Linked DNA regions of Homo sapiens. The protein of the gene in region 2 purifies or fractionates together with the protein of the main gene of each other region. This does not show direct contact. Each region holds a gene or a part of one and is shown on either strand. Other genes may lie near its edges.

Region 1 (15,780 bases), on a different chromosome or scaffold from region 2:
GGAGGCGGATGTTGCAGTGAGCTGAGATCGTGCCATTGCACTTCTGCCTGGGCAACAAGCGTGAAACACAGACTCAAAGAAAAAAAAAAGAAGAAGTTAAAAAGGTAGGCCGGGTGCAGTGGCTCATGCCTGTAATCGCAACACTTTGGGAGGCCAAGGCAGATGGATCACCTGAGGTCAGGAGTTTGAGACCAGCTTGACCAACATGGTGAAACCCTGTCTCTACTAAAAATACAAAATTAGCCAGGCATGGTAGCAGGTGCCTGTAATCCCAGCTACTTAGGAGGCTGAGGCAGGAGAATCACTTGAACCCAGGAGGCAGATGTTGCAGTGAGCTGAGGTTGCACCATTGACTCCAGCCTGGGCAACAAGAGCAAAACTCCGTCTCAAAAAAAAAAGTTAAGACCAGGCATGGTGGCTCACGCCTGTAATCCCAGCACTTTGGGAGGCCGAGGTGGGCAGATCACCTGAGGCCAGGAGTTCGAGATCAGCCTGACAACATGGCAAAACCCCATCTCTACTAAAAATACAAAAATTAGCCTGGCATGGTGGTGCATGCCTATAATCCCAGCTACTCGGGAGGCTGAGGCAGGAGAATCGTTTGAACCCGGGAGGTACAGACTGCAGTGAGCCAAGATCACGCCATCACACTCCTGCCTCGGCAACCAGACCAAAACTCTGTCTCAAAAAAAAAAAATGTTAAAAAGGTGGCTGGGCATAGTGGCTCATGCCTATAATCCCAGCACTTTGGGAGGATGAGGCAGGCCTCAGCCTGCCAAACTCCTGGGCTCAGGAATGCTTGAGCCCAAGAGTTTGAGACCAGCCTGAGCAACATGGAGACACCTTGTCTACAAAATACAAAAAAATTTAGCCAGGCATGGTGGTTTATGCCTGTAGTACCAGCTACTCGGGAGACTGAGATGGGAGGATCACTTGAGCCCAGGGGGGTCGAGGCTGCAGTGAGCCGTGATCATGCCACTGCACTCCATCCCAAGCAACAGAATGAGACACAGTCTCCAAAAATAAAGTTAAGCCACGCCCGGTGGCTCATGCCTGTGGTCCCAGCACTTTAGGAGGCTAAGGCAGGCAGATTGCTTGAGCCCAGGAGTTCGAGATCACCCTGGGCAACATGGCAAAACCCAGTCTCTATGAAAAAACACAAAAAGTAGCTGGGCATGGTGGCAGGCACCTGTAGTCCCAGCTACTCAGGAGGCTGAGGCAGAAGAATCGCTTGAGCCCAGGAGGTGGAGGTTGCAGTGAGCTGAGATCCTGTCACTGCATTCCAGTCTGGGCGACAGAGCAAGACTCTGTCTCAAAAACAAAAGTCGGCCGGGTGTGGTGGCTCACGCCTGTAATCCCAGCACTTTGGGAGGCTGAGGCGGGTGGATCACCTGAGGTTGGGAGTTTGAGACCAGCCTGACCAACATGGAGAAACCCTGTCTCTACTAAAAATACAAAATTAGCTGGGCTTGGTGGCACATGCCTGTAATCCAAGCTACTCAGGAGACTGAGGCAGGAGAATCGTGTGAACCCGGGAGGCAGAGGTTGCGGTGAGCCGAGATTGTGCCATTGCACTCCAGCCTGGGCAACAACAGCGAAACTCCGTCTTAAAAAAAAAAGTTGAAAAGATATTTACCTGAGAGAAATGAAAGCACATGTCCACACAAAGACTTATACATGTTGTACATCAATGTATATAGTTGCTTTATTTGTCATATCCAAACACTAGGAACAACCTAAATGTTCATCAACAGGTGAACTGGTAAACAACTGTGGTATATTCATACCACATACCAATAAAAAAAAAGGAATGAACTACTGATACCACCAATAATGTGGATGAACCTCAAAATAATTATGCTCAATGAAAAGAAACAAGACAATAAAGAATATATACTGTTCTTTGTATAAAACTTTATTAATCTTTTTTTTTTTTTGAGATGGAGTCTGGCTCTGTCACCCAGGCTGGAGTGCAGTGGCACGATCTCAGCCCACTGCAACCTCCGCCTCCCTGGTTCAAGAGATTCTCCTGCCTCAGCCTCCCACGTAGCTGGGACTACAGGCATTCGCCACCACACCTGGCTAATTTTTAGTAGAGATGGAGTTTCACCATGTTAGCCAGGCTAGTCTTGAACTCCCGACCTCAGGTGATCTGCCCTCCCTTGAGCTCTCAAAGTGCTGGGATTACAGGCGTAAGCCACTGCATCTCGCCAAATTTTATTATTCTTTATACAAAATCCTTGAAAATATAAACATCCATAGAGACAGAAAGCAGACCAGTGGTTGCTTGGGGGTGAGGGTGGGGAATCAGGGAGAGGCGAGAGGAGGAATTACAAGGGGACATGAGGAAATGTTTGAGAGTGATGAATATGTCCATAGTGATTGTACTGTGGTTTCACAGATGTATACATATGTCAAAACTCAGTAAACTGTACTTTTTTTTTTTGAGATGGAGTCTTATTCTGTTGCCCAGGCTAGAGTGCAGTGGCGCCATCTTGGCTCACTGCAACCTCTACCTCCTGACTCAAGTGATTCTCCTGCCTCAGCCACCCAAGTAGCTGGGATTACAGGCATGTACCACCATGCCCAGCTAATTTTTGTATTCTAGTAGAGACGGGGTTTCACCGTGTTAGCCAGGCTGGTCTCGAACTCCTGACCTCAAGTGATCCACCCGCCTCAGCCTCCCAAAGTGCTGGGATTACAAGTGTGAGCCACCGTACCCCACCTAAATTGTACATTTTAAATATATGTAGTTATTATATTTTAATTATAGCTCAATAAAGTTGTTTAGAAATATAATAATAAATTTTTAAAGAGGCTGTTAGTGTTACAAATCATGACTAAAATAACATATACATACATTCATGGGTGGGTAATAAATAAAAAAAGAAGAAGTAGTAAAATAACAGACACATAATATTAAAAATAACTTGGCCAGGCATGGTGGCCCATGCCTGTAATCCCAGCACTTTGGGAGGCCAAAGTGGAAGCTTCGTTTGAAGCTAGAAGTTCAAGACCAGCCCTGGCAACATAGTGAGACCCCCATCTCTACAAAAAAAATTTAAAATTAGCCAAGCATGGTGGCGCGTACCTTAGTCCTAGCTACTCCAGAGGCTGAGGTGGGAGGATCACTTGAGTCCAGGAGTTTGAGGCTGCAGTGTGCTATAATCATGCCACTGCATTCCAGCCTGGGTGACAGAGGGAGACCCTGTCTTAAAGAAAAAAATAAATAAGTAGCTTTATACTCTGAGATTATAACCACAGACAAAGTGAGCAAAGACTATAGGTTGAGTATCCCTTATCCAAAATGCTGGGGACCAGAAGTGTTTTGAATTTCTGATCTTTATTTTAAAATATTTGCATTATACTTACCAGTTAAGCATCCCAGATCCAAAAACACAAAATACAAAATGCTCCACTCATCATTTCCTTTGGGCGTCATATCAGCCCTCAAAAAGTTTTGGACTTCGGAGTACCTCAGGTTTCAGATTTTTGGACTCGGGATGGTCAACCTGTAGCAGTGAAGTGGGGAGAATGTCTTGAAATAAAAAGCAGCTAAGGCTCTCATCATAACATATAGTGTCAAAAGTGAGGGTTATTCTTGGTTTTTATATTTAGGGAAATATCAGTTAAAAAAAATTATGAGCTGGGCGCAGTGGCTCATGCCTGTAATCCTAGCACTTTGAGAGGCCAAGGCAGGAGGATCACTTGGGCCCAAGACTTCAAAACCAGCCTGGGCAACACAGCGAGACCCCATCACTAAAAAAAAAATTTTTTTAATTAGCTTGGCATGGTGGTACACACCTGTGGTCCCAGCTACTCAAGAAGCTGAGATAGGAAGATCACCTGGGGTCAGGAGGTTGAGACTGCAGTGAGCTGTAATTGCACCACTGCACTCCAGCCCAGATGACAGCGCAAGACCTTGCTTAAAAAAAAAAATTATGAGGCTGGGCGCAGTGGCTCACGCCTGTAATCCCAGCACTTTGGGAGGCCGAGACAGGTGGATCACCTGAGGTCAGAAGTTTGAGAACAGCCTGGCCAACATGGTGAAACCTCGTCTCTACCAAAAATACAAAACTTAGCTGGACGTGGTGGCGGGAGCCTGTAATCCCAGCTACTCGGGAGGCTGAAGCATTGAACCTGGGAGGTGGAGGTTGCAGTGAGCTGAGATTGTGCCACTGCACTCCAGCCTGGGTGACAGAGCGAGACTCCATCTCAAAAAAAAAAAAAAATATTATGAACTTCGAATCCGGCAGACACTGGGCTTCCTATTTTAAAAGGCATCACTACCAACCTGTCACCAGGTAGACAGACCCACTGGCTCCCAAGTCATAATCCTGTGTCTCCTCTAAATACCCAGAGCCAAGAAAGCAGGGCAGCACCCCTCCCGGAGGGCACAGGAGACCCACCAGTCCCTACCCCCCTGTCTGCATCAACTCTTACTCTAGTACCACACTTGATAGGTTCACATCCATCTGGAGCTTTGACCCTCATTGCCTACGAAGGCAGGGATTCACTGGCTTCCAAACTGAGAAGGTACTACCACATTCCCACATGCTGAAGACACCCCCTTCAGGGAAGGCGATAAAACCCAGGGTTTCTGGCACAAGTTTGAACTCCTCCATCTCCCCAGCTGCTGTGGCTAATCGGTCCCCAAGTTCTGTGGAACCTACCCTGTCTAGGATTATTTCTGAAAGGTAAATTCCGTGATGGCAGGGCCCATGTCTCTCTTGTAGCTGTGTCCCTAGCTCCTAGAGCCACAGCAGGTGCTCAGGAAGTGGATGTGATTGAATGCATGGTGAGACAGGACTACAGAAGACATGCTGGAATCAAGCAGGTAATGATGTCATGCAGTAGGTGTTTCCTCACCTCCAACCCGGAGGTTCTGACAGGGCTCCTGTGCCCGGAACCTCTGCTCCCCTTCAGGCAGTGAGCCAGTTTCACTGATGGGAATATGCCCGGTATCAGGTGGGCTGGGTCAGAAACAAAGTTGAATGCCACCACCAACCCATCTGCTTTCCAGTGACCCTCTCTCCTTCAGCCTGTGCTACTTCTTGCTTGGAATCTTGCAGAAGCCTCTTAGCTGGCCCCGTGGACTCTATGTTCTCCCTGGTTTGATTGTGTCCTTCCTGCCCTTCTTTTTTTCTCAGAGATAGTCTCGCTCTGTCGCCCAGGCTGGAGTGCAGTGGCAAGATCTCTGCCTCCCAGGTTCAAGCAATTCTCCTGCCTCAGCCTCCTGAGTAGCTGGGATTACAGGCACCTGCCACCATGCCCAGCTAATTTTTGTATTTTTGGTAGATGGGGTTTTGCCATGTTGGCCAGGTTGGTCTTGAACTCCTGACCTCAAATGATCCACCCTCCTCTGCCTCCCAAAGTGCTGGGATTATAGGCATGAGCCACCCCACCCCAGCCCCTAATCGACTTCTTTACAAACCTTATGACTCGTTAAGGTTTGTAACCCAAAAACTTTGCCTCCCACATTCATCAGAGTTGGCCCCAGTGACTTTTGGACATTTCCATGACTGGGATTGTTCACAATCATTTGCTCCCAGCTCCAGAGAGGGATTTCCAAGCAGCAATGGCAGTGCCCCTGGGACAAGGGGTCAGTGCTCACCCAGGCACGGCAGGCCTGGGTGTCATGGAAGCCCACCCTCCTTCCCAGAGAACTGAAGTTGTCTTTGGCACTGCCTTCAGGTTCCTGGGCACCTGGAGGGTGTCTATTTCTCACTGAGGTCAAGAGTTCCTTAAGGAACAGTCCTGTGACCTGTTCATCTTTATGTGCCCAGTGCCTGGCACCCAGCAAGGATGATGGCAGCAGAGCAGAGGAGATCTGGGCAGAAACAAGATTCAGTCTGGGTCACACTGAAAGTGTAATTTCTTTGGCTGTCCCCTTATCTGTGAGAACAGAATTTGTGGGAGGATTACGAAGCCAGGGCCAGAGTTGGAGGGCTTAGGCTTGGCCTGGGGACAGCAAGGAGCCTTGGGACTTTGTACCACAACCATAGGAATGTGCAGAAGGGGCCTGGTCAGGAGTCAAGTGGCCTGGGTTCCACACAGCACTGACACTTACTAAGCCCTCTAACCCTGGAGAAGTTGTTTCACTTCTTTGAGTTCTTGGCATCTGCTAAATGCGATGAAAATCCTATCCTCGCCCATTTCAGGGGGTAGCTGTGAAGAATCTAGAAGAAATTTGGAAATTATAAAAGGCTATATAAATTACAAGGGCAGGGCCAGGCATGGTAATGGCTCGCACTTGTAATCCCAACACTTTAGGAGGCCAAGGTGGGAGCATTGCTTAAGTTCAGGAGTTCAAGACCAGCCTGGGCAACATAGCGAAACCCTGTCTCTACTAAAAATGAAAAAAATTAGCCAAATATAGTGGTGTGTGCCTGTAGACCCAGCTACTTGGCAGGCTGAGGCAGGATTGCTTGAGCCCAGGAGGTCAGGCTGCAATGAGCTATGATCACACCACTGCATGCCAGCCTGGGTGACAGAATAAGACCCTGTCTCAAAGAAAAAAAAAAAGCGGGGGGAGGGGGCACTTGCTGGTGGCACTTTCTATGGATCACAGCCTTTCATGGCGCTATACCAGAGGGTAAGGGCCTCAACCCAATCCCACCTCCAACATAAACAGGCCAGTTGCCTGTGGGGTGCAGCATAGGTCAACCTCTGAAGAATACATTCTAGCCAGGTGGGAGGTGGAACAGGGACCCTCCAGCCACCATGACACCCTAACGCCTTCTAAACCCCACCCAGGCCAGCTTGGCATCAAGGAAATGAGAGACAAGCAGCTCTGAGAGTGTGCTCCAAGAGGTTTATTAGTATCCACACTGGGGAGCTCTGGGTTCTTGCCCAGAACAAGGGGCTGAGAACATCCAGTCAGGATGCAAGGCCACCACAGGCTGAGGGGACTGGCACTGGGGATATGGCAGGGTTTCGCCTTCAAGCACAGCCAAGACACCCTCCTTTGCCCTTGGAGTCTCCTCCTGAAGAGCATGGCTGTCTTCCCCATGGAGAAAATGAGGTCTCCAGAGGTTTCCTGCCTTGCCCAATATCCACCAACCCCCTCAGAATCTAGACCCCCCCTGTCTGTTCCTCACCTCGGCCAGGATCGGGGGACACCCCCATTTTGCAGAGTCAGCCCCACCCCCACCTCAGCAGGCCCCAGCTCACTCCTAGAACCTAGTGACTAAAGTCTGGAGCGGATAAATTCTATCAGGTTCTCCAACTGCTCCTCCAGGCGCTGTTCAACTCCATGGTTCTCGATGACCCAGTCAAAGTCCCCGAAGTTGTCCAGGCCACATTCTGACTCAGCATCGTCCACCCCTATGAAGGAAGCATGGTGAGGTCAGGCCTCAGCCCTCCAGACAGACAGCAGGCATCAAGGCCTGCTAACCCCAACTGGAGTGGGCCCTCCCGGCCTCTCCTCTGCTACCCTAGAGCCAAGGGCTACCCACCCAGAAGGCACCTCCCTACCCCTGAAACACTGTGATGGCAGGTTCAGTAGCCCATAGCCACCTGGGCCTCTCAGCTGATCCCTCCTGACTTAATCCTTCACTTGCTACTGCCTACAGAGGGTGAATCGGGTCATCTAAAACCACACACAACCCAAAAGGGCACTGTGTTTTCATTTTCTGTCAAGCTGGTTGTGTCCTTTTCTATCCCTAAATCTGTCTGACTCAATCCCCTCAGGAGGCAGCATGTGCTGGAGTCAGAAGCAGAGGGTCAGGAGGCCAGCTCCTCCTCTCACTCTTTGTGACCCTGGGAAAGAGACTTAACCTTTCAGGCCAGGGCCTCATCCAACCATGGGTAAACTAATAACAGCATCTACCTGCTGAATCTGTTTTGATGGTAAAGTGAGACAGTGCATATAAAATGCTTAGCACAGGCCTGGACATGTGAGTGCCCCAGAAATGAGCAGCATTAGTAGTGGTCATACCCATTGGATCTGAACTGCTGCTCTAAGTCACAGTGATCTAGGGCAGGAAGGAAGCCTGAGCTGTGCTTCTGAAGCCCACAGAGCGGGTCCTGGGCTTGCACCACTGAAGCTCCCAGCAGAACTTCCTCTCCACTACTAACTTCTAACTCCACTACTGTGTTAAACAGAAGTGAGCTTTGTCAGGTTTGCCCCTGACCACTGTCAGCCCCTACTGGGCTGGAAAGCAAAGGTGAAGAATCATGGGGGTGGGTCCCAGCCAGACCACCAAAGCAGCCCACTGGCCATGAGAAGATAGCCTAGGTTAAGCCAAGGGAACCTTGACCCTCAGGATTCTGTCCACCATGCTACTCCCTAATCAGGAGGCCTCAGATTCTCCTTTATCATCCCTTATTCACTTCCCCCAGGCCTGCCCGGTAGACAAACCACAGGGTGGGTAGCCTGTGTCCTCCTGTGCCCTACACATAGAGTGGCTCACCTGGCGTGAACACCCAGCCCCGCTGCTGTCGGCTCTGCTCCAACGCTACAACGCGGACCGTCTGCGTCACGGCCCCATAGGCCTCCCGAAACCACTGGATGTCAGACACTCTCCGTGTGTCACTCACCAGCTGCAGGAGAGGGACAGACAGGTGACCAACAGGACAGGATGATAGAAGTGAGGGGAGGTGGGAGGACTACAGAACCCAGGGCAGTGTGGGGTGTGGCTCTACCCCCCCATCATCGTGAGCATGTCAGCAGCTAGACTCACTATTCACGGATTCATTCATTCATTGAACATACACCACTGAGTGCTGACTACATGTCAGGCAGTGCTGCTGACAAGTTCATTAATCCAATTAAACAAGTATTATAGTAAGTACCTACTGTACGCTGGTCACTGTGCTAGGTGCTAAGGCTAGACTGGTAAGCAAAACAGACCCTGTGCCTGCCCTCTCAGAGCTTACAGTCTAGTGGGAGACACTGAACAAGTATTCAGTAATCAAATAACCATGTGATTACAGTGTATGTCAACAAGTGTCTCAACCTCAACACGGCTGAAACTCAACTCCTGATTTCCTCTCCAATCCTGTTCCTCCCCACCTTCCCTGTCTTAGAAAATGATAATTCTATATTTGTCCACCTGCTCAGAACAAAATCCTTGGTATAGTCTCTCACACCCCACAGCCAACCCAAGGGCAAATCCTGTTGGTTTTCTCTTCAAAATACACGCAAAATTGACCCCTTCTCTCCACTCTACGTTTGCTCCCCTCTGCGCCCCAACCATAGTCATTTTGTCTGTTACAGAAAGGTCCTGGCCAGGCATGGTGGCTCATGCCTGTAATCCCAGCATTTTGGGAGGCCGAGGTGGGTGGTTCACTTGAGGTCAGGAGTTCAAATTTTGCCAAATGGTAAAACACCGTCTCGACTAAAAATACAAAAAAAATTAGTTGGGCATGATGGCACATGCCTGTAATCCCAGCTACTCGGGAGGCTGATGCACAAGAATCGCTTAAACCCACAAGGCAGAGGGTAGAGTGAGCTGAGATCGCGCCACCGCACTCCAGCCTTGGTGACAAGAGTGAGACTCTGTCTCAAAAAAAAAAAAAAAAAAAAAAAAAAAACACAGGAAAGTCCTCCACCCGGCCCCTGTGCTTCTGCTCCCATCTTCCCCACAGCAGCTATGGCCAGGCTTCTCAATCTGAAATCAGATCATGTCTCTCCTCTGCTTAGAACGCTGTAGTGACTCCCCATCTCACTCAGAATAAAATCCCAGCTCTCCCAAAGGTCCGCCCTGGGAAGTCTGACCTGACCTTCCACCACTCTGGCCACCTGGCTTGTCCTCAGACACACCAGGCACACTCACCACTCAAGCCTCTGCACTTCCTCCTCCCTCTCTCTGGAAAGCTACTTCCCCAAATATCCATTCAGTTATCCCTTATTTCCTTCAGGTCTTGCTCAAACATCATCATATCAGTGTAGCCTTCCCAGGCACCCTTAATAAAACAGCAACGCTTCCCTATCTCTCCTCATATCCTAGGCCTACTTTATTTTACTCCTTAGTATTTACCACTGCCTGATATATTCTGTATTTATTCTGTGCCTATCTCCCCGCCACCCTCAGCTGTAATGTAAGCTCCCTGAAGGAAGAGATTTCATTGCGCTTTTGCACCAATATATCCCCACAACATGCAACCACACCTGGCAGAAGTAGACACTCAATATTCACTGCCAGAATGAATGAGGAAAAAAAGGGGTAGGGTGCTATAGGAGCACCTGCCAGGGAGCACCAGTTAAGACCTGAATATTAGGGAAGGCTTCCCTGTGGAGGTGTCATGTCAACTGAGCTGAAGCTAACCAGGGAAAGAGAAAGAAAGGGCAGTCCAGACAGGTGGAAGGGCATGTGCAAAGGCCCTGATTCCAGAAGGAGTTCGACTGACTTGAGGACCAAGAAGGCCAGTGTTGCTACAGCTTAAGGAGTAAGGAGGCTAAAAAAGTAGCAGAAACTGGATCACACAAGGCCCAGAAGTTCATGTGAAGGATTTTCATTTTGTTCATGAGCACAATGGGAAGCCACCAAAGTATTCTAAACAGAAGAGTGACATCACCTGGTTCACGTTTTTAAAAGGTCAGTCTGGGCCGCATGCAGTGGCTCACACCTGTAATCCCACTATTTTGGGAGGCCAAGGTGGGTGGATCACCTGAGGTCAGGAGTTCGAGACCAGCCTGGCCAACATGGTGAAAACCCGTCTCTACTAAAAATACAAAAATTAGCCAGGCGTGGTGGTGGACACCTGTAGTCCCAGCTGCTTGGGAGGCTGAGGCAGAAGAATCACTTAAACCCAGGAGGCAGAGGTTGCAGTGAGCCAAGATTGCGCCACTGCACTCCAGCCCAGGCGACAAGTGTGAGACTCCATCTCAAAAATAAATAAATAAATAAATAAATAAATAAATAAATAAATAATAAAAGGTCAGTCTGGCTACTGTGTAATGAATAGACCACAGAGGGCAAGAGCCACAGCTAGAGACCAGTGTGGAGGCTACTGCGACTGTCCAGGCCAGAAATGGTGGGGGCTTGGGCCAGGATGGTGGCAGTGGAGACAGAGAGAGATGGACACAGCGAAGAGCTAGGGAAACAGGTGTTCTTCATGCTGCCATGGAGCCCTCTTACCCAGATGGGCTGGGAGATGCCCTCCACAATCTTCCTGCAAAAGAAGCCTGGGTCAGCCTGGCGTTTCTCCTCTCCCCAGCGGATCATGTCCTTCCGAAAGGCCTCCTTGTAGGTGCTGGTGTCCAGGAGTCTCTGGAAGTTCAAGCCATGCTCCTGCCCAAAGGACATTATGTCTACGTCACCGGCCTTTCAACCTCAGTGGTCTCTCCTAAAACAGCGGAAGAGCCATCCCTCACCCTCACCTGCCTCCCCCAGGGCTGATGCAAGGATTAATGAGGTTTCAGCCAGGACAAAGGTCTGCAAGGGCAAGAGTCTCAGCAACTAAGAAATCCCGATCACTGGTAGACAGAAGAAAGGTCTGGGGATAATCCAGAAATTGTTTCAATTTGTCTTTGAAATATGTGGCGTGGTTTCTCTTTTGCAAGTTTTACCTTCCCAATTATTTCTGGCTTAAACTAATACTGAAATTAGTTTGCATCCCCTGGGCAAAGGCTTAGCCTTCAACTAAAGTGGGAAATCTGAGGGGGGAAAAAAAATCCTGCACTCCATGTCCTCCCACTAGCATTGTTTGCCCCCATCCCAAATCCCACGGAGATTGTGTCTCCTTTCTCTCCCCCTTACCCCTTCCCATCCCCAAATTCCTGGCGCCTTTGCTGAAACAGCATCACTCCATCTGGCTCTGGGCACTTGCAAGGCCTCCCACACCCAGAGGACCCCCAAGGCAGGAGAGGTTACTCTGACCACCCTGGGGAACTCCTTTCTCCCCTTTCCAAGCAGAGGGGTCCATCCAAAGGGATCCAGGATAGGAGGGGTCTGAAAAGCATCACCTCGTTCAGATTCTGGCTCCTCCATGAACTCACTGCAACAAGACCTTCTCCCCTCAGGCTCTCAATTTCTTGATCACCCACCTGCTCCCCTTGCTGCAAGAGGAGGTCAGTAGCCACCTCCTGCTCCTGAACCAGTTTCCCTCCAGGAGCGTTGTGGTCTACTTGTTGGTTATATTTCTTCTTGTGACTTAGGAAATCAATGCATGAACATTTCATTTTGGTTTTGTTTTTTAATGGGAGTGGGGGATAGAGTGGTGCTGGACTTGCACAGAGCAAGGGCAGTCTGGCCTATCAGAGTCTTCCATGGAGCTTTTAAAAATGCAAACTGGCCAGGCACAGTGGCTCACGCCTGTAATCCCAGCACTTTGGGAGGCCGAGGCGGGCAGATCACAAGGTCAGGAGTTCAAGACCAGCCTGACCAATATGGTGAAACCATGTCTCTACTAAAAATACAAAACAATTACCCGGGCGTGGTCACCCATGGCTGCAATCCCAGCTACTCAGGAGGCTAAGGCAGTAGAACTGCTTGAACCCCAGGAGGTGGAGGTTGCAGTGAGCCAAGATCGTGCCACTGCACTCTAGGCTGGGCGACAGAGCGAGACTCCGTCTCAAATATAAATAAAATAAATAAATAAATAAAAATGCAAACTCCTGCTCCTTCTTCCTCCCGCCCCCCACCCAACCCCACCAGTCTCACTCAGTAGGACAGAAGCAAGACCTGTCTGGGAACTTTGGAAGATCAGTTTTGAAAGTGCTCCTGGGAGGCCTTTGGAAGTGCCTAGGCCCCACTAGGGAAGGCTCAGTGCCTTCCCCTTCACCCCTTCCTTCCTCCCATCCCCCCACCACCACCCCACCACCCTGCAGCATCGCTCCCAGTCTGTCTCCTGGATACAAAGAAATTCTGTATCCAGTTTCATTTGGGAAAGAATCCTGCTTAAAATTTTTGAAAACCAGGCCAGGTAAAGTAGCTCCTGCCCAAATCCTAGCACTTTGGGAGGCCATAGTGGGAGGATCACTTGAGCCCAGGAGTTGGAGACCAGCCTGGGCAACATAATGAGACTCCCATCTCTACAAAAAAAAATTTTAAACTTAGCCAGGCATAGTGGCATGCACCTGTATTCCTAGCTACTTGGGAAGCTCAAGTGGGAGGATCACTTGAGCCCAGGAGGTCAAGGCTGCAGTGAGCCATTATGCGCCACTGCACTCCAGCCTGCGCTACAGAGCAAGACCTTGTCTCAAAAAGAAAAAAAAATAAACCACTTAATTTAGTTATTCTTACAATTCCTCAGGCTGCCACCCTATGAATAGGTCTGTTCAGCTGGTGAGAGATGACCCAATGCTTCCCATGGAGGCAAAGATGGCATATAGAAGGGGGGACAATTCATTTTATGTGGTTCCGGAAACCACACTCTGGCCAATTGAGGGGCCAAAGCACACGTCCCAGAAGGGTGCACCTAGAGGTCAAGGGCAAAATGTGGCGACAAGAGGGCTCTTCACCATGTGGGAGGCTGATCTTGCCTTCCAAGTTCCCTTTCTGAAGTCTAAGATTCTGAGAGTTCCTGTTGACTTATTTTTTTTATTCTATTTTAACGATTCTATTTTTTTTAATCCATGTGGTTCAAAATTCAAAGATACACATTAATTTACAGTCGAAAATCTCTCTCTCACCCTGTCCCCTCCCTGGGGGCAACCAATGGTACGGTTTCTAACCTGTCTTTCCCATGCAGTGCAGGAACACATCCCAGGCACCTGAAACAGTGCTGAACATGAGACAGGCACCCTGTAAATATTTGTTAAATAGCCAAATATATGAGCAGATATATTTAGAATTCTTTTACAATTCTTGGTCACAAAGTGCCTCTTCAGTTTTAGACAAATGTAGCATTCTCTACACACTGTTCTATATCTTGGTATTGGCTTTTTTTTTTTTTCACTTAATGATATATTTTGACAACTTCTGGGACTAAATTTCTTTTTTGTGTGTTGTTGTTTACTTTAAAAAAAATTTTTTTTAAAGAAACGGAGATGGGGTTTCACCATGTTGGCCAGGCTGGTCTCTAACTCCTGGACTCAAGCAATCTACCTGCCTCGGCCTCCCAAAGTGCTGGGATTACAGGCATGTGCCACCGTGCTCGGCCTGTACTAAATTTCTAGGAGCAAAGTTCTAGGGGCTGTGTCAGGCCAGCTGAGTGAGAGGGTGGTGTGAGGAGGCACAGGCAGGTCCTTACTAATCACACAGCATCAGAGCTGCCAACTCGAGTGTCGACAGCCTTTCCTGGGCACACCTTCCTGAACTCACTCTGAAGGGAGGGAGGCTATTAGGAAAGAAATATAAGCTGAAAATGCCCCCGAAAGGTCCACTCACAGAAAACCAAGAGCTGGCCACCACCCTGCCAGCAGTGGTGACGGGAATCATGCCAGTGACTCAGGCAGCAGCCACAGCTCCAAAGTCCTGGAGCCGGCCCCGCCCAACACACCGGATGCCACAAAGCACCACCTACCTGAGCATACTGTTCCTTGAGTGGACCAGAGAGCCGGAGGACAGCACAGACATCAGCTCCAAGTCTGCAGGACAGGGAGATCAGAATCCAGTTAGCCTAGAATTTCCAGGAGCTTCCATGTCCCAGAAAGGGAGTCAAGAGGCCTGTGTTGAAGTCCCATTTCTACTACTGGTATTATGTAACTTTGGTAGGTCTCAATGTCCCTGATCCTGTTTCCTCATCAGAAAATGGGGATAACACTTTCTGTTCTGTCTCCCACACAGGATTATTATGAAACTCTAAAGAATATAAAAGAGCCCTGAAACTAACAGGTAAAACCTATAAAGTGCTAATTACAGTGTGAACAGGCGCACAATATTCTAGCTGGATTAGGTTATTGCCCAGACCCTAAACTAATTCTCTCATAGCCAGAGGTATCTGTCTCCACTGACTTGGTCACCATAACATATATCATTTATTAATTCACTGGTTGGGCATGGTGGCTCACACCTGTAATCCCAATACTTTGGGAGGCCAAGGCAGGAGGAGTGCTTGAGGCCAGGAGTTCAAGACCAGCCTGGGCAACACAATAAGACCCAGAGATACCATCTCCACCAAAAAATTTAAAAATTAGCTGAGCATGGCAGCATGTGCCTGTACTCCCAGCTACTCCAGAGGCTGAGGTGGGAGCATTCCTGAGCCCAGGAGTTCCAGGCTACAGTGAGCCATGATTGTACCACTGTATGCCAGCCTGGGAGACAGAGTGAGACCCTGTCTCATAAAAATGAAATAAGAAAAGCAAATTTAAAAAACTGAAACAAAAGCCAGGTGTGGTGGCTCACGCCTGTAATCCCAGTACTTTGGAAGGCTGAGGCAGCAGATCACCTGAGGTCAGGAGTTTGAGACCAGCCTGACCAACACGGTGAAACCCTGTCTCTACTAAAAGCATAAAATTAGCCGGACATGATGGCGCATGCCTGTAATCCCAGCTACTCGGGAGGCTGAGGCAGGAGAATCACCTGAACCCAGGAGGTGGAAGTTGCAGTGAGCCGAGATCGCCCCATTGCACTCCAGCCTGGGCAACAAGAGTGAAAATCCATCTCAAAAATGAAAATAAAAATAAAAATAACTCATTCGTTATTTAATTTACTTAACCAACCTTTTTTTTTTTTTTTTTTTTTGAGACGGAGTCTTGCTCCACCACCCAGGCTGGAGTGCAATGGCGCGATCTCGGCTCACTGCAATCTCCGCCTCCCAGGTTTGAGCGATTCTCCTGCCTCGGCCTCCCAAGTAGCTGGGATTACAGGCGCCCGCCACTACACCCGGCTAATTTTTGTATTTTTAGTACAGACGGGGTTTTGCCATGTTGGCCAGGCTGGTCTCAAACTC
Region 2 (16,510 bases):
GAGGAAGAGCGTTGTCAACCAGCCAACTATTACACCCCAAGGACAGGACAGTCCCTGCCCTGGGGACACAGATGCTGGTAACTGGGGGAGCTTCCACTGCACCAGTTATAACAGTGCAAAAACAGTGAGAAGGAGGAAGGCCAGGGTACCCTGAAGGCTCAGGTACCCCTTCTGGGAGGAAGTGACAAGAGAACTGTGGGAAGGGTCTAAAGAGTTGACCTCCAAGCCCTCCTGCCACTCCCTCACCTGTGAATGTTGGGCACCATCCCCTCCAGGGCCTAGTGCAGCTTGCCCTCCCCTTCCCCCCTTCCCGAAACAGACCCACCCATTTCCCAGGCAGTACCTCCCACTGGCTCAGGAGGTCCTTGGTGGATGAGAAGGTGCACAGCTGGGTGGAGGAACCGACGATAACTCGGGGCAGGCCGCCCAGAGCCCCACGCCATAACCCCACCAGACCATGTTTCTGGCCAATCTCGGTTAGCGCCTGAAACATGCCCTAGTGTGGGGAAGACCGGGGGTGGGGTTCAGACAGCCCAGCATCAGGGGCTGCCATCCTAACACTGCCAAGGATGGGTCCTTAATAGGAATCTCTTGTCCAGACAACCAGTTCAATGTGGGCTTAGAGCCAGAATGTGGGCCCTTGGTTGTCTAGCCACCCCATTGTTCCTTCCCTGGGCACCCAAGAACTGGGGCGGGATGTATGCAAGTGAGGCCATTCACTGGTCAGGAGAAACAGGGGCAGAAAATTAGAGGAACTGGAGTACATATTGGAAAGAGGCATCAGGCACGGTGGCTCACGCCTGTAATCCTAGCACTTTGGGAGGCCCAGGCGGGTGGATCACCTGAGGTCAGGAGTTTGAGACCAGCTTGGCCAACATGGTGAAACCCCATCTCTATTAAAAATACAAAAATTGCCGGGTGCAGTGGCTCATGCCTGTAATCCCAGCACTTTGGGAGGCCGAGGCGGGCGGATCACAAGTTCAGGAGTTCGAGACCAGCCTGACCAACATGGTGAAACCCCATCTCTACTAAAATTACAAAAATTAGCTGGACGTGGTGGCGCATGGCTGTAATCCCAGCTACTCAAGAGGTTGCAGCAGGAGAATCACTTGAACCCGGGAGGTGGAGGTTGCAGTGAGCCAAGACTGCGCCACTGCACTCCAGCCTGGGCAACAGAGCAAGACTCTGTCTCAACAAAACAAAACAAAACAAAAAAAATTTAGCTGGGTGTGGTGGTGCACGCCTGTAGTCCCAAGCTACTCGGGAGGCTGAGGCAGGAGAATCACTTGAACCCGGGAAGCGGAGGTTGCAGTGAGCCGAGATCGTGCCAATGCACTTCAGCCTGGGCAACAGAGCGAGACTCCATCTAAAAAAAGAGTAAAGAGGGTCTGGGTAGACTCCAGGGGCAAAATGGGACAGAACCGATGGGTTGAGCAGAGCAGTGGCTGGGATTGGATCTGTTGGGTGCAGGCAGAAAGCTAGGGGAAAAGAGAAAGGATGGTCAGGGACTTTGGCAGACTTGGGAACCCTCACCTGATGCTTATACTGGTGCCCTACAGCAATTTCTGAGGCTGCCTGTGCCTGCAGGTGTGTCTTCACCTGGGAACAAGAGAATATCATAGCCTGTGCCCCAGTGGCCATCCTCCTACCTGAGAACCAAATGTCTCACCCCCTCACACTTCCTCTAGGGTGTTCAGCAATGAATAGCCTCTTACTCTGATTATTGTTCTTCCTACTTAACAAACTGGTTAACAAAAAGACTCTGTCTCTAGGCTCCAGCCCCAGGGGGGTGGATCTCCCAGCACTGCAAGACACCCCAACCCCTTCATATCCTCTTTCCCTTGGGGCTAGCAGTCGGGGGTGGAGTGGTTGGAGAATGGCAATATTTCCTAAGGCTGTTCATGTTAGGCAAGACCTGGTGTCCCGCCTCTCATGCTAGCTCCCATTCCCAGACTGGATCTCCAGCCACCACTTCTATCAGGCTCCCCATCAGACTCTGGGCAAAACTTGCTCTCTAGCCCCCAACCCCCACAGAGGTATCGAGCTGACTTTGGGGAGACCACTGTCCCTGAAACTCACACCTTGAAATGAGACCAGACTGCCTCTGCTACAGGACATACTACTTCCCCGTCTCTTTTGCTCTTGGGAGCACTAAGCAGGGCCTAGTCCTAGCAATAAACAGCTGTGTGACCTTGAGTGGGTCACTTCCCCTTTCTGGGCCTCAGGCTCTTGACCCTTCACCTATACCAGATAACTCAAAGGGGCAGATGTTGAGATTGTTAATTCTGTGATGCCCAGGGCCTTCCTGATCCCTAGACTCTCTGACGTATGTTAAATTCCTTATCCTCCCCTTCACAAATCCAACCTCAATATCAACACATAATAATAAAAACAAATGCTACCAAATGCTTACTGTCTGCCAGGATTCGCACTAATGCTTTCATGTCTACCGCATTTGTCTCCCTCGATCCTCCCAATAATCACACAGAAAGGGCACTATAATTATCACCATTTTACAGATGTGGCAACTGAAGCTCAACAACTAGTAATTTTCTTTCTTTTCTTTTTTTTTTTTTTTTTGAGACGGAGTCTCTCTCTCTGGCCCAGGCTGGAGTGCAGTGGCCGGATCTCAGCTCACTGCAAGCTCCGCCTCCTGGGTTTAGGCCATTCTCCTGCCTCAGCCTCCGGAGTAGCTGGGACTACAGGCGCCCACCACCACGCCCGGCTAATTTTTTGTATTTTTAGTAGAGACGGGGTTTCACCGTGTTAGCCAGGATGGTCTCCATCTCCTGACCTCGTGATCCGCCCGCCTCGGCCTCCCAAAGTGCTGGGATTACTGGCGTGAGCCACCGCGCCCGGCCAACAACTAGTAATTTTCAAAGCCAGGATTTTAGTTCCAGAAAGTCTGATTCCAAAGCCCATAATCTTTTTTTTTTTTTTTTGTGAGACGTAGCCTTGCTCTGTGGCCCAGGCTGGAGTGCAGTGACCGGATCTCGGCTCACTGCAAGCTCCGCCTCCCGGGTTCATGCCATTCTCCTGCCTCAGCCTCCCGAGTAGCTGGGACTACAGGCGCCCACCACCGCACCCGGCTAATTTTTTGTATTTTTAGTAGAGACGGGGTTTCACTGTGTTAGCCAGGATGGTCTCCATCTCCTGACCTCGTGATCCGCCCGCCTTGGCCTCCCAAAGTGCTGGGATTACAGGTGTGAACCACTGCACCCGGCCCCAAAGCCCATAATCTTAATCAATACATTCAATCGTGTCCATCAGATGGGTGTGTATAGGGCAGATCAGAAGACTCCGAAGCCTACCAGCACTTTCCTGATGCCTTTCCCTGCTTGCAGTGGGGCAGCACTCTGCCACCTATGCCCTTGGGAAAGAACAGCTCCTATCCTACAACGAGGATCTGCCCTGAAGGTCCCAGGCAAGAGCCCTCTTCTTACCATGTAGATGGGGCTCCCCAAGTAGGCTCCCATGACCCCAGCCATGGCCCCAGCTGCTGCGCTGCGGGCAGGACTGTGGGTGCCTTCGGCTGTGTGCAGGTAGCCCCCAGCCTCAGCCAGCCCATAGGTGCCCAGTCGGATGCCATTCATCAGGAACTGGTACAAGAGGGCGGGGGCCAGGCCTTTCTGCAGGGCAGCAAGGCCATCCACCTTGCCGATGGTGATGAAGGCATGGAAGACATTTCGGTAGTGCCGCTGGTATGTGCCAGGGGCCTGCAGTTCTCCTTGCAACTGCATCCTGGTCTTCACCACCTCCAGGGGATTGGTGAATACACAGGCCCCGCAGGCTGCCAGGCCACTCATCAAGAAGTCCATGGTGGGATAGCTGTAGCAGGAACTGACCCAAGAGTAAGAAAGTAAAAATGGGTGTCAGAAAGCGGGGTTGGAAGACAGGGGGAAGGCCTGTTTCAGCAGTACAGGTTGCAGAAGATAAGAATTTAGATTTGCAGTCAAGGGTGTCAGGGTCAAATGTCAAGTGGTCAAACGTCAGCTGGAATTTGGGAGTCAAGAGCTGGCAAGCAGGGAAGAGATAGAAATCTAGGAGATTCTGGTGAGAAGCTTAAGGCAGGACCCTCTGAGGTCAAGGAGGGGCAAAAGACAGAAGGTTGCAGGTGGGATGGCTCAGGATGGCGGGCGACGGGAGCACGGGAGTAGAGGAGGGAATCGCGGGGTTGGGAGATGGAAGCCAGGGAGGCAGGAAGAAGAAAGCCAGCAAGTGAGAGAAGAAAAGGATCCGGGAGAAGAGCCGGTGATTTCCTCGAGCCAGCAACGAGATCTCGATCCGAGAAAGAAGTCAGGACTCTGGCCAGGAATGAGCGTCCCTGAGCGTCCCCAGGCAGCCACCGGAGCTCGCAGTAGCTTCAACCCCGGGTAGCCTGCGGAGGCCGGGCCGCCACACTCCTGCCACTGGAGCGCGGGGCCAATGGGGAGCCTTCAAGAGCCACAACCGAGGCCCTCAGCCAATCAGCGCCGAGCCGGCTCCGCGGCCAAAGGGAGGAGCTCTCGGCGCTCCTGTCCCCGGAATCACCCGGAGGCGGTTGGAATTAACTGTCCAGGCTCCGCCACCAGCGCTCGGCCGCCGACTCCGGCTCCGGAAGGGAGGCCCGGGACGCGGCGGTTTTGTTATTGGCAGGGAAGAGACCTGGGTTCCCGATCGAACACAGAGGCCGAGCGCAGCAGTCCCCCACTGGGGTGCTGGGACCGCCCCTCGGGTGGGCGGACGGCTTTAGCTTCCTACCCCGGGTTGTGACCGGGTGGGGTCACATAAGTTCAGGTCCACGCCCTGCTCGGTGCCGGCGCCAGGAGAGCCAGGAAGACGCGGCCCGGCTTGCGGGGGGTAGAGGGACACACTTGCGCTGCGGGACCAGTCTCCTGAGGCTGCACGGGTTGGTGCTTGGTTAATTAAATCCTTAGTCCTTAGGCTCTTTATTTTTATTTTTTATTTTTTTTGAGACGGAGTCTCGCTCTGTCGCCCAGGCTGGAGTGCAGTGGCGCGATCTTAGCTCACTGAGAGCTCCGCCTCCCGGGTTCACGCCATTCTCCTGCCTCAGCCTCCCAAGTAGCTGGGACTACAGGTGCCCGCCACCACGCCCGGCTTATTTTTTGTATTTTTAATAGAGACCACCGTGTTAGCCAGGATGGTCTCGATCTCCTGACCTCGTGATCCACCCGCCTCAGCCTCCCAAAGTGCTGGGATTACAGGCGTGAGCCACCATCCCTGGCCTGGAGTTCTTTCATATGAGATATTTGTCTCTACTCCTCCATTATTTATTCAACCATTTATTTAATCAGTATGGACTCATGGACATTTATACTTTGGGTTATAATCCAATATACTTCATATTTATTTTCTAGCTAATTTCGTTCTAGCTTTGGCCTTTGAGAGCTGTTTCCGTTGGCTCCTGTGTCTCTTTAGCATACCCCCATCCATTTTTTTTTGCACACAAAAGTTTTTAGTTTATAAATCTTGTGAAAAATCCACAGTGGCCACAGATGTTACTGTAGCATCTTTACTCCTTTGGCTTTTTGCCACACCAACACTGTCCTTTGCAGTCCCCCTTTCTTCATTCTGGTCTTGTGTTCCTTTCATTGCTTTCTTGAGTTCTTTTCTTCTCATCCAGGCCATGTCTTGGAAGTCAGCATTTGGGTTTATTTTTCTTTGCATAATCCAGTGAATCATAAATCATGCCAAAGCCAGTTGTCTTGCCACCACCAAAATGAGTTCTGAATCCAAATACAAAGATGAGGCCAGGCGTGGTGGCTCACGCCTGTAATCCCAGCACTTTGGGAGGCAGAGGCAGGCAGATCACATGAGGTCAGGAGTTTGAGACCAGCCTGGCCAACATTGTGAAACCCTGTCTCTGCTAAAACTACAAAAATTAGCCGGGTGTGGTGGCAGGCACCTGTAATCCCAGCTACTCGGGAGGCTGAGGCAGGAGAATCACTTGAACCCAGGAGGCAGAGGTTGCAGTGAGCCGAGATTGCGCCACTACACTCCAGCCTGGGTGACAGACGGAGACTCCATCTCATAAAGACAAACAAAAACAAACAAAGATGATGACATCTAGTGTAGTCTCATACATTTTGGCTAGTTTTTCCTGAATTTCTGTCTTAGGTACTGTTGTCTTCCCAGGGTGAAGGACCTCAATAACCATTTGTTCCTCCTGAAGTATGTAGTCAGTTGATCATGAACTTCCTAGTTCAGATAGTTACTAAGTCATTCATGATGGCGGTCAATCCTCAACCAGGGAGAAAAATAAGAGTCCCATCAGTGTTGTTGTCATCATTGGTATTTTAATTAAAACCTTGTTTTTATTTAGTGTCACCTTACTTTCTGGTACTATAAAATGCTCCAGGCTCATTTTGTGTATTTCCTGCCACAGTCCTGCAATCAGCCATTTCTCCAAGGACCCCTATTTTCTTTTATTGGCAAATGGTTTTAGAATCCAAGATCTGGGCCCTAGGTGTGCTTGTTGCTTTTGAGGTATCATTGCTTCTGGACCCTCACATCTGAGAAAGCAAGGAAATATATGTGTGTATACTAACCCACGTATATACACAAACATGTATTTCCATATATAACCATCCATATCTATATTAAGCTAAGCATGAATTCATACTGATGTCTCCAACTTTAATCCATTACTACATGGATCATTCTAGCCACCTCCCTTGTTTATCTAAACTCCCACCCCAACTGTGAGAAACCTGGCTTCCATAATTTGCCATCTATTTACTTAATTGTTTATTCCAGGACACGTGTATAGGAGTATCAGAATTGTTTTGTTTTTCTTTTTAAATTCTTTATTATTATTATTATTATTATTATTTGAGACGGAGTTTTGTTCTTGTTGCCCATGCTAGAGTGCAATGTTGCAATCTCAGTTCACTGCAACCTTCACCTCTCAGGTTCAAGCGATTCTCCTGCCTCAGCCTCCTGAGTAGCTGGAATTACAAGCACGAACCACCACACCTGGCTAATTTGTTTTTGTATTTTTAGTAGAAACAGGGTTTCACCATGTTAGCCAGGCTGGTCTCGAACTCCTGACCTCAGGTGATCCTCCCGCCTTGGCCTCCCAAAGTGCTGGTATTACAGGCATGAGCCACTGCACCCGGCCTAAACTTTTTCTTCTTTCTTTCTTTTTTTTTTTGAGATGGAGTTTTGCTGTTGTCGCCCAGGCTGGAGCACAATGGCATGATCTTGGCATACTGCAACCTCTGCCTCCCGGGTTCAAGCGATTCTCCTGCTTCAGCCTCCCAAGTAGCTGAGATTACAGGCATGCGCCACCACGCCTGGCTAATTTTGTATTTTTAGTAGAAACAGGGTTTCTCCATGTTGGTCAGGCTGGTTTGCGAACTCCCGACCTCAGGTGATCCACCTGCCTCGGCCTCCCAAAGTGCTAGGATTACAGGGGTGAGCCACCACACCCAGCCTAAAATTTTTCTTTATATGTGCCAGGCACAGTAGCTCATGCCTGTAATCCCAGCAGTTCGGGAGGCTGAGGCAGGTGGATCACCTGAGGTCAGGAGTTCAAGACGATCCTGGGCAGCATGGCAAAACCCCGTCTCTACTAAAAATACAGAAATTAGCTGGGCGTGGTGGCACGCACCTGTAGTCCCAGCTACTTGGGAGGCTGAGGCACGAGAATTACTTGAACCTGGGAGGCGGAGGTTGCTGTGAGCCAAGATCGCGTCGTTGCACTCCAGCCTAGGTTACAGAGCAAGATTCCGTTTCAATAAAATAAAATAAAATATTTCTTTATTTGTAATCATAATGTCTCAAAAGAGAATTGTTAACACATACCCCTGTGGAGAACAATCTTATAAACTAGGGTACAGTGCTTATGTGTAGTTCCATTTGCCTTTGATCTTACAGACTCGACTCATTTCCAAAATTACTCAGGTCAGCACCTTTCCCCCAGCTCCCTTCAGAAAAGTTATTTCATACATTAGTAGTATCATTAAATTCTTTTGCCACAATCTGCCTTCCATATTGGGTTCCCTGACCTCCTAATTTTTTTTTTAATTAAAAATATCAGGAGTCAAAAAAAATAAAATAAAAAAAATATCAGGAGTCTGGGCGTGGTGGCTCACACCTGTAATCCCAGCACTTTGGGAGGCCAAGGCAGGCAGATCACCTGAGGTTGGGGGTGTGAAACCAGCCTGACCAACATGGGGAAACTTCTTCTCTACTAAAAAAAATACAAAATTAGCTGGGGGTGGTGGCGCATGCCTGTAATCCCAGCTACTCGGGAGGCTGAGGCAGGAGAATCACTTGAACCCCGGAAGTGGAGGTTGCAGTGAGCAGGAGATTGCGCCATTGCACTCCAGCCTGGGCAACAAGAGTTAAACTCTGTCTCAAAATTACATCTATCTATCTATCTATCTATCTATCTATCTATCTATCTATCTATCTATATATATATATATCAGGGCTGGGCATGGTGGCTCAGGCCTGTAATCCCAGCACTTTGGGAGGCTGAGGTCAGCGGATCATGAGGTCGAGAGATCGAGACCATCCTGCCCAACATGGTGAACCCTCATCTCTACTAAAAAAAAAAAATACAAAAATTGGCCGGGTGTGGTGGCTCATGCCTGTAATCTCAGCACTTTGGGAGGCCGAGGAGGGCGGATCACCAGGTCATGAGGTCGAGACCATCCTGGCTAACACAATGAAACCCCATCTCTACTAAAAATACAAAAAATTAGCCAGGCGTGGTGGCAGGTGCCTGTAGTCCCAGCTACTAGGGAGGCTGAGGCAGGAAAATGGCATGAACCCAGGAGGCGGAGCTTGCAGTGAGCCGAGATCGCGTCACTGCACTCCAGCCTGGGCGACAGAGTGAGACTCTGTCTCAAAAAAAAAAAAAAAAATTGAGGCCGGATGCAGTGGCTCATGCTTGTAATCCCAGCACTTTGGGAGGCCGAGGTGGGTGGATCACCTAAGGCCAGGAGTTCGAGACCAGCCTGGTCAACCTGGTGAAACCCCATTTCTACTAAAAATACAAAAATTAGCTGGGTGTGGTGGCGGGCACCTGTAATCCCAGCTACTCGGGAGGCTGAAGCAGGAGAATCACTTCAACCCAGGAGGCGGAGTTTGCAGCGAGCCGAGATCGCACCACTGCACTCCAGCTGGGCAACAGAGCTAGACTCCGTCTCAAAAAACAACAACAACAACAACAACAAAACAAACAAACAAAAAAAACCCAAAAATGTATAATTAGGCCCAAGGTCACCTAGATTTTCTTTTATGTTTTCTTCTAGAAGCTTTATAGTTTTACTTTTTACATTTAGGTCTATGATCCATTTTGAGTTAATTTTTGTAAATTATGTGAGGTCTGGGTTTGGTTTCTTCTCATCCTCCTCTCTCTTTTCTTCTTTCTTCTTTCCTCCTCCTCCTCCTTCGTCGTCTTCTTCCTCTTCCTCCTCTTCTTCTCCTTCTTCTTCTTTTTCTCCTTCTTCTTTCTTCTTCTTCCTTTGGTCCTTTGTAAAAAATCTGTTTTCTATATTTGTGTGGCTCGATTTCTGTGCCCTCACTTCTGTTCCCTTGATCTGTGTGTCTAGCCTTTGACCAATATCATGCTGTCTTGATTTATTGTAGGCTGTTACCATTTTTTCCTGGATGTGAATGTCATGAATCAGATTTGAGAGGAGTTGCATAGGGAACGTAAAAGTCCCCAGGTGTCTGAAAGAAGGGGTGGTAACATAGAGAGGGAGCGAGAAAGACGGGGAGGCTTGGAGGGCAGGGGGCTGTGTCTTTCTTGCCTCTTCCTTGGTAGCCTAGACACTGATGGGTTCCTTTTGGCTGCTGAGCGCGCACCCGAAGTGCTCAAACTCCACCTAGTGGTGGTGAGGAAGGATCGTCTCTGTGTATCCTCACCTGGGCCAAAACCTGTATAAATTCCCAGAGCAGGCCAGCTTTTCCTTACTGCTTCTTCCTGATTTATCCCCCATCACAGGCAGGCTACCTACATTAACAGCTTTGCAGACAGAAATGAGGCCCAGGTGTTCTGTGCTCCATGAAAGAGTCTACTGGACTTCCAAGTCCTGGCCCTACCGGAGGGAGCTGGACTCAACACTTCTTTTATTAGAAGCTCCCTTTATAAGGGATTGTTTTGTTGTAAGTGACAGAAATCCAACTCAAACTAGCTTACAAAAAGGGAACTCATTGACTCACACAACTGAAAGCTCCAGACACACACATGACTTCAGGCCAGCAGAATCAGGCACTCAAATCTGTCTCTCTCCACCTCTGCCATGTATCGGTTTTATTCTCAGGCCACCTCACTGATGGCCACTAGCAGCTGCAGGCCCATATTCCACCAGCTTAGCATCCTCAGTGGAAATGTAACTGCCCAGTGGGCTCTTCCTGTCCTCTGCACAAATAAAGACCACGGCATTGCAGTAAAGAAAGAGTTTAATTGACACGAGGCCGGCCATGCCACATGCAAAATTGATTATTACTCAAGTCAATCTCCCTGAAAATTCAGAGATCAGGGTTTTTGATAATTTGGTGGGTAGGGGGTCAGAAAGTGGGGAGTGCTAATTGGTTAGGTGGGAGACGAAATCACAGGGAGTTGAAACTCTCCTCTTTCACTGGGTCGGTTCCTGGGTGGGGGCCACAAGAACAGATGAACCAGTTTATTGATCCGGGTGTTGCCAGATGATGCTTTGAGTGCAGGGTCTGCAAAATATCACAAGCACTCATCTTAGGTTTTACAAGAATGATGTTATCCCCAGGAGCAATTTGGGGAGGTTCAGAATCTTGCAGCCTCCAGCTGCATGACTCCTAAACCAAATCTTATTTATTTATTTTTTTTTTGAGACGGAGTATCGCTTTGTCACCCAGGCTGGAGTGTAATGGCATGGTCTCTGATCACTGCAACCTCTGTCTCCTGGGTTCAAGCGATTCTCCTGTCTCAGCCTCCCGAGTAGCTGGGACTACAGGCGTGCGCCACCACACCCGGCTAATATTTTGTATTTTTAGTAGAGACAGGGTTTCACCATGTTGGCCAGGCTGGCCTTGAACTCCTGACCTCGTGATCTGCCAACCTCGGCCTCCCAAAGTGCTGGGATTACAGGCATAAGCCACTGTGCCCAGCCGAAACGGGAGTTTTATTACATTATTACTCAAATCAGTCTCCCCAAGCAGAATCAGTTTTTTGTTTGTTTGTTTGTTTGTTTGTTTGTTTTTGAGACGGAGTCTCGCTCTGTCGCCCAGGCTGGAGTGCAATGGCGCCATCTTGGCTCACTGCAAGCTCCGCCTCCCGGGTTCACGCCATTCTCCTGCCTCAGCCTCCCCAGTAGCTGGGCCTACAGGCCCCCGCCACCACGCCCGGCTAATTTTTTGTACTTTTAGTAGAGACGGGGTTTCACCGTGTTAGCCAGGATGGTCTCGATCTCCTGACGTCGTGATCTGCCCGCCTCAGCCTCCCAAAGTGCTGGGATTAGAGGCTTGAGCCACCGCACCCGGCTACCAGAATCAGAGTTTTTAAAGATCATTTGGCGGGTAGGGACTTGGGAAGTGGGGAGTGCTGATTGGTCAGGTTGGAGATGGAATTGCAGGGGGTCGAAGTGAGGTTTTCTTGCTGTCTTCTGTTCCTGGGTGTGATGACAGAACAGGTGGTGCCAGATTAAGGTCTGGGTGGTATCAGCTGATTCATAGAGCCAGCGGCTGCATGACCCCCAAACTAATTTATAATCTTGTAGCTAATCTGTCAATTTGTTAGTCCTGCAAAGGCAGACTGGTCCCCAGGCAAGAAGGGGGTCTTTTCAGTTAAGGACTATTAACAATTTTGTTTCAGAGTCAAACCATGAACTGAATTCCTTCCCAAAGTTAGTTCAGCCTACGCTGAGGAATGAACAAGGACAGCTTAAAGATTAGAAGCAACATGGAACTGGTGAGGTCTGATTTCTTTCACTGTCATAATTTCCTCAGTTATAACTTTACAAAGGCGATTTTAAGACCCTGTCTCAAAAACAAACAAACAAACAAACAAAAACTATCGTGATCCACTCCCCCTACTCTGCTCTGAAACCTTCAGGGCCTGTCTGCCCGGTGTGATTGCTCACGATATGGCCTCCATGTGTCCCTCTTTTCATTTCAGATCAGTTTGTTTCCCTTTCACGGTTCTCCAGACGTGCCTACTTTCCTCTTCGCTGTGCCTGCGCTTCCCTGGATTCCCACAATGCTCCTTCATGCCCTGCCTCTTGGCTTGGCTAAACCCCTCTGCCTGATTTTAAATGAACAGTCAAAGTGCCTCTTCTCCCTGACACCCACTTTTTCCAACCAACAGGTCAATGACATGAGGAAGACCGAAGGAGGCTGCTGGGTGTGGACACAAAGAGATGGAGCAGACGCTTATGGGCTCCTTCATCCTTCCAGAACAGACTCTCCAAGCAAAGTCTAAACCAGTCACATTGAAGCTCCTAGGGTTACTTCATTAATAATATTTCAGGCCGGGCGTGGTGGCTCACGCCTGTAATCCCAGCACTTTGGGAGCCTGAGGCGGGAGGATCACAAGATTAGGAGTTCAAGACCAGCCTGGCCAATATGGTGAAATCCCGTCTCTACAAAAAGTTAGCCAGGCGTGGTGGCGGGCGCCTGTAGTCCCAGCTACTCGGGAGGCTGAGGCAGGAGAATGGCTTGAGCCCAGGAGGCGGAGGTTGCAGTGAGCCGAGATTGCACCACTACACTCCAGCCTGGGCAACAGAGCAAGACTCTGTCTCAAATAATAATAATAATAATAATACTTCAAAAAGACTTCAAATTGAAGTCTTTTTTTTTTTTTTTTTTTTGAGACGGATTCTCGCTCCGTCGCCCAGGCTGGAGTACAATCGTGTGATCTTGGCTCACTGCAACCTCCGCCTCCTGGGTTCAAGCCATTCTCTGGCCTCAGCCTCCTGAGTAGCTGGTATTACAGGCTTGTGCCAACATGCCTGGCTAATTTTTGTATTTTTAGTAGAGACGGGGTTTCATCTTGTTGTCCAGGCTGGTCATGAACTCCTGACCTTAAGTGATCTGCCTGCCTCAGCCTCCCAAAGTGCTGGGATTACAGGTGTGAGCCACCACGCCCGGCTGCACTAATTATTTGTAATGGTAAAGAGTGTAAGCTTCCCTAGGAGGACTGTCTCCCAGTTCTGCACTAGGGGATAAATTGTAATGGTCAAGGTTCTTTCAGCAGTAAGTGACAGAAAACCAGCTAAAACCAGCTCAAGCGCAAAAGGGAATGTCATGCCTCTGGAAGCTGGGAGGTCCAAGGGACTCAAATATCATTGTAATCCCCAGCTTTTTTTTTTGCTCTGTCACCCAGGCTGGAGTGCAGGGGCGTGGTCTTGGTTCACTGCAGCCTCGAACTCCTGGGCTCAAGTGATCCTCCTGCCTCAGCCTCTGGAGTAGTTGAGACTACAGGCATGCGCCACCGCCAGGCTTCCTCCCTCTCTTGGCTCTGCTTCCCTCAGGTATGGGGCTCATTTTCTCCCACTGTTGACTGGCTTCCTCCTTTTCCAGGGGAAGGAAGTAGGCCAAGGTATAGACAGCTCCTGACTTAGATTGTTCCTGCCTTGTGAGCTTGGAGGAAAGAGAAAGCTTCTCTTTCTCAGAGGCCCAGAAGCTTCTCTTTCTCCTGGAGTCTGTCCTGACCTGCTCATTCCTGGACCAGTCTCTGTGGCCAGAGGAATACGGCACTGTGATTGAACAAACCTGAGTCACGTGGCCAGAGGGAGGCTGTTGTGATTGGCTGTCCCACTGGAACCACATGGAGTCGGGTGGGTGATGGAGAGTTTCGTAGGAGATGGACACTGCTGTTACCAGGAAGATGAAATCTATTTGATGCAACATTATATTCCAGGAAACGTTATAGCTGCAAAGACCACGTAGCGACATGAAAATTGGTTATAAAGCAATGCTAAGAGAACAAGGCAGAAGACAGACTTGAAACTATGATGGCACATTTGGAATATGAAAAAATAGAAAACTTTTGCTCTGTAAGGGTGGTAGAAGAATGAATTATTACGTCAAAAACCTTCAGTGTCTTTGCAAAAGTATTTTATAATAAATAACGTGTGCATGCACAAATAGTCTCATGTTTACTGCATAATATGATTTTCGGAGCTCAGTTTCTTTTTGTAATGAGATAAGACACAAATAAAATAGATGGTGATATTGACAAAAAGAGTCAAACTCTGTAAAATATTTGAAGAGATTTATTCTGAGCCAAATATGAGTGACCATGGCCTGTGACTCAGCCCTCAGGAGATCCTGAGAACATGTGCCCAATGTAGTTGGGGTGCAGCTTGCTTTTATACATTTTAGGGAGACATGAGACTTCTATCAAATACTTTTTTTTTTTTGAGACCAAGTCTCACTCTGTCACCCAGGCTGGAGTGCAGTGGCACAATCTCGGCTCACTGCAACGTCTGCCTCCCAGGTTCAAACGATTCTCCTGCCTCAGCCTCCCAAGTACAATAGCTGGGATTACAGGCGCTCGCCACCACGCCTGGCTTATTTTTGTATTTTTAGTAGAGATGGGGTTTCACCATGTTGGCCAGGCTGGTCTCGAACTCCTGGCCTCAGCTGATCGGCCCGCCTCGGCCTCCCAAAGAGTTGGGATTACAAGCTTGAGCCACCGCGCCTGGCCTCAATCAAATACATTCAAATACATTTAAGAAATACAGGCCAGGCGCGGTGGCTCACGCCTGTAATCCCAGCACTTTGGGAGGCTGAGGTGGGCGGATCATCTGAGGTCAGAAGTTCGAGACCAGCCTGGCCAACATGGTGAAACTCCATCTCTACTAAAAATAATAGCAAAAATTAGCCGGACACAGTGGCACACGCCGGTAATCCCAGCTACTCGGGAGGCTAAGGCAGGAGAATTGCTTGAACCCGGGAGGTGGAGGTTGTAGTGAATCAAGATCATGCCACTGCACTCCAGCCTGGGCAACAGAAAGAGTATCAAAAAATAAAAAAATAAAAGGCTGGGCACGGTGGCTCATGTCTGTAATCCCAGTACTTTGGGAGGCCGAGGCAGGCAGATCACTTGAGGTCAGGAGTTCAAGACCAACCTGGCCAACGTGGTGAAACTCTATCTCTACTAAAAGTACAAAAATTAGCCGGACGTGGTGGCGCATGCCTGTAATCCTAGCTGCTTAGAAGGTTGAGGTAAGACAATTGCTTGAACCCAAGAGGCAGAGGTTGCAGTGAGCCGAAATCCTGCCACTGCATTCCAGCCTGGGCAACACAGACTTCGTCTCAGAAAAAAAAAAAAGAAAAAAAAAAGAGGAGTAGTGAACTGTGGGAAGGATTCAATTCAATTTGGTTCAATTCATCAACTATTGAGCACCTATTATGTGCCTGATCCTCTTCCAGAACTTTGGGATATACAGTGTGAAAGGAAAATGAATCTTGGGGCCCCCAAATCACTAAGCTAAAGAAAAAGTCAAGCTGGGAACTGCTTAGGGCAAACTGCCTCCCATTCTACTCAAAGTCATCCCTCTGCTCACTGAGATAAATGCATATCTGGAGCCGGGGCGCAGTGGCTCACGCCTGTAATCCCATCACTTTGGGAGGCCGAGGCGGGCAGATCACGAGGTCAGGAGATCGAAACCATCCTGGTCAACATGGTGAAACCCCGTCTCTACTAAAAATACAAAAATTAGCTGGGCGTGGTCGTGGGCACCTATAGTCCCAGCTACTCGGGAGGCTGAGGCAGGAGAATCACTTGAACCCGGGAGGCGGAGGTTGCAGTGAGCCAAGATCACACCACTGCACTCCAGCCTGGGTGACAGAGTGAGACTTTGTCAAAAAAAAAAAAAAAGCATATCTGATTGCCTCCTTTGGAAAGGCTAATCAGAAACTGAAAAGAATGCAACAGTTTGTCTCTCACCTACCTGTGACCTGGAAGCCCTCTCCGTGCTTGAGTTGTCCCGCCTTTCCAGACTAAACCAATGTACGTCTTACTTATATCGATTGAGGTCTTATGTCTCCCTAAAATGTATAAAACCAACCAAGCTGTGCCCTAACCACCTTGGACACATGTCATCAAGATCTCCTGAAGCTGTGTCACAGGTGTGTGCTCTCAACCTTGGCAAAATAAATTTTTTTTTTTTTTGAGATGGAGTCTCACTCTGTCGTGCCCAGGCTGGTGTGCAGTGGTGTGATCCTGGCTCACTGCAACCTCTGCCTCCCGGGTTCAAGTGATTCTTCTGCCTCAGCCTCCTGAGTAGCAGGGATTATAGGCATGCACCACCATGCGCGGCTAATATTTTGTATTTTTAGTAGAATCAGATTTTCACCCTGTTGGCCAGGCTGGTCTCGAACTCCTGACCTCGGTGATCTGCCCACCTTGCCTGGCTAAACTGCCTACTTTTGTATTGTGTTACCTGATTTATTGACTAAAATAGTTATTGCAACAGAGGCTACTCTTGCTTTTTTTCTTTTTCCTTTTCATTTTTTTTTTTGAGATGGAATCTCTGTCACCTAGGCTGGAGTGCAGTGGCCCGATCTCGGCCCA

Evidence for each region.
Region 1: the proteins of SLC25A35 (region 2) and PMVK purify together in Homo sapiens (affinity purification with mass spectrometry; 2 studies listed by BioGRID and IntAct, with this or other methods). This does not show direct contact.

The regions. Positions count from the first base shown.
Region 1 is NC_000001.11:154,917,940-154,933,719, forward strand, and holds the end of PMVK (phosphomevalonate kinase), read right to left. Parts: intron 14,477-15,780; coding exon 14,413-14,476; intron 11,238-14,412; coding exon 11,085-11,237; intron 8,545-11,084; coding exon 8,415-8,544; intron 7,327-8,414; coding exon 7,190-7,326; 3' UTR 6,801-7,189; downstream 1-6,800. UniProt on the Homo sapiens protein: Catalyzes the reversible ATP-dependent phosphorylation of mevalonate 5-phosphate to produce mevalonate diphosphate and ADP, a key step in the mevalonic acid mediated biosynthesis of isopentenyl diphosphate and other polyisoprenoid metabolites.
Region 2 is NC_000017.11:8,290,990-8,307,499, forward strand, and holds the start of SLC25A35 (solute carrier family 25 member 35), read right to left. Parts: upstream 4,412-16,510; 5' UTR 3,819-4,411; coding exon 3,444-3,818; intron 1,600-3,443; coding exon 1,534-1,599; intron 1,367-1,533; coding exon of another isoform or gene 1,283-1,366; exon of another isoform or gene 1,189-1,282; intron 497-1,188; coding exon 344-496; intron 1-343. UniProt on the Homo sapiens protein: Putative antiporter that exchanges dicarboxylates and sulfur oxoanions across the inner membrane of mitochondria.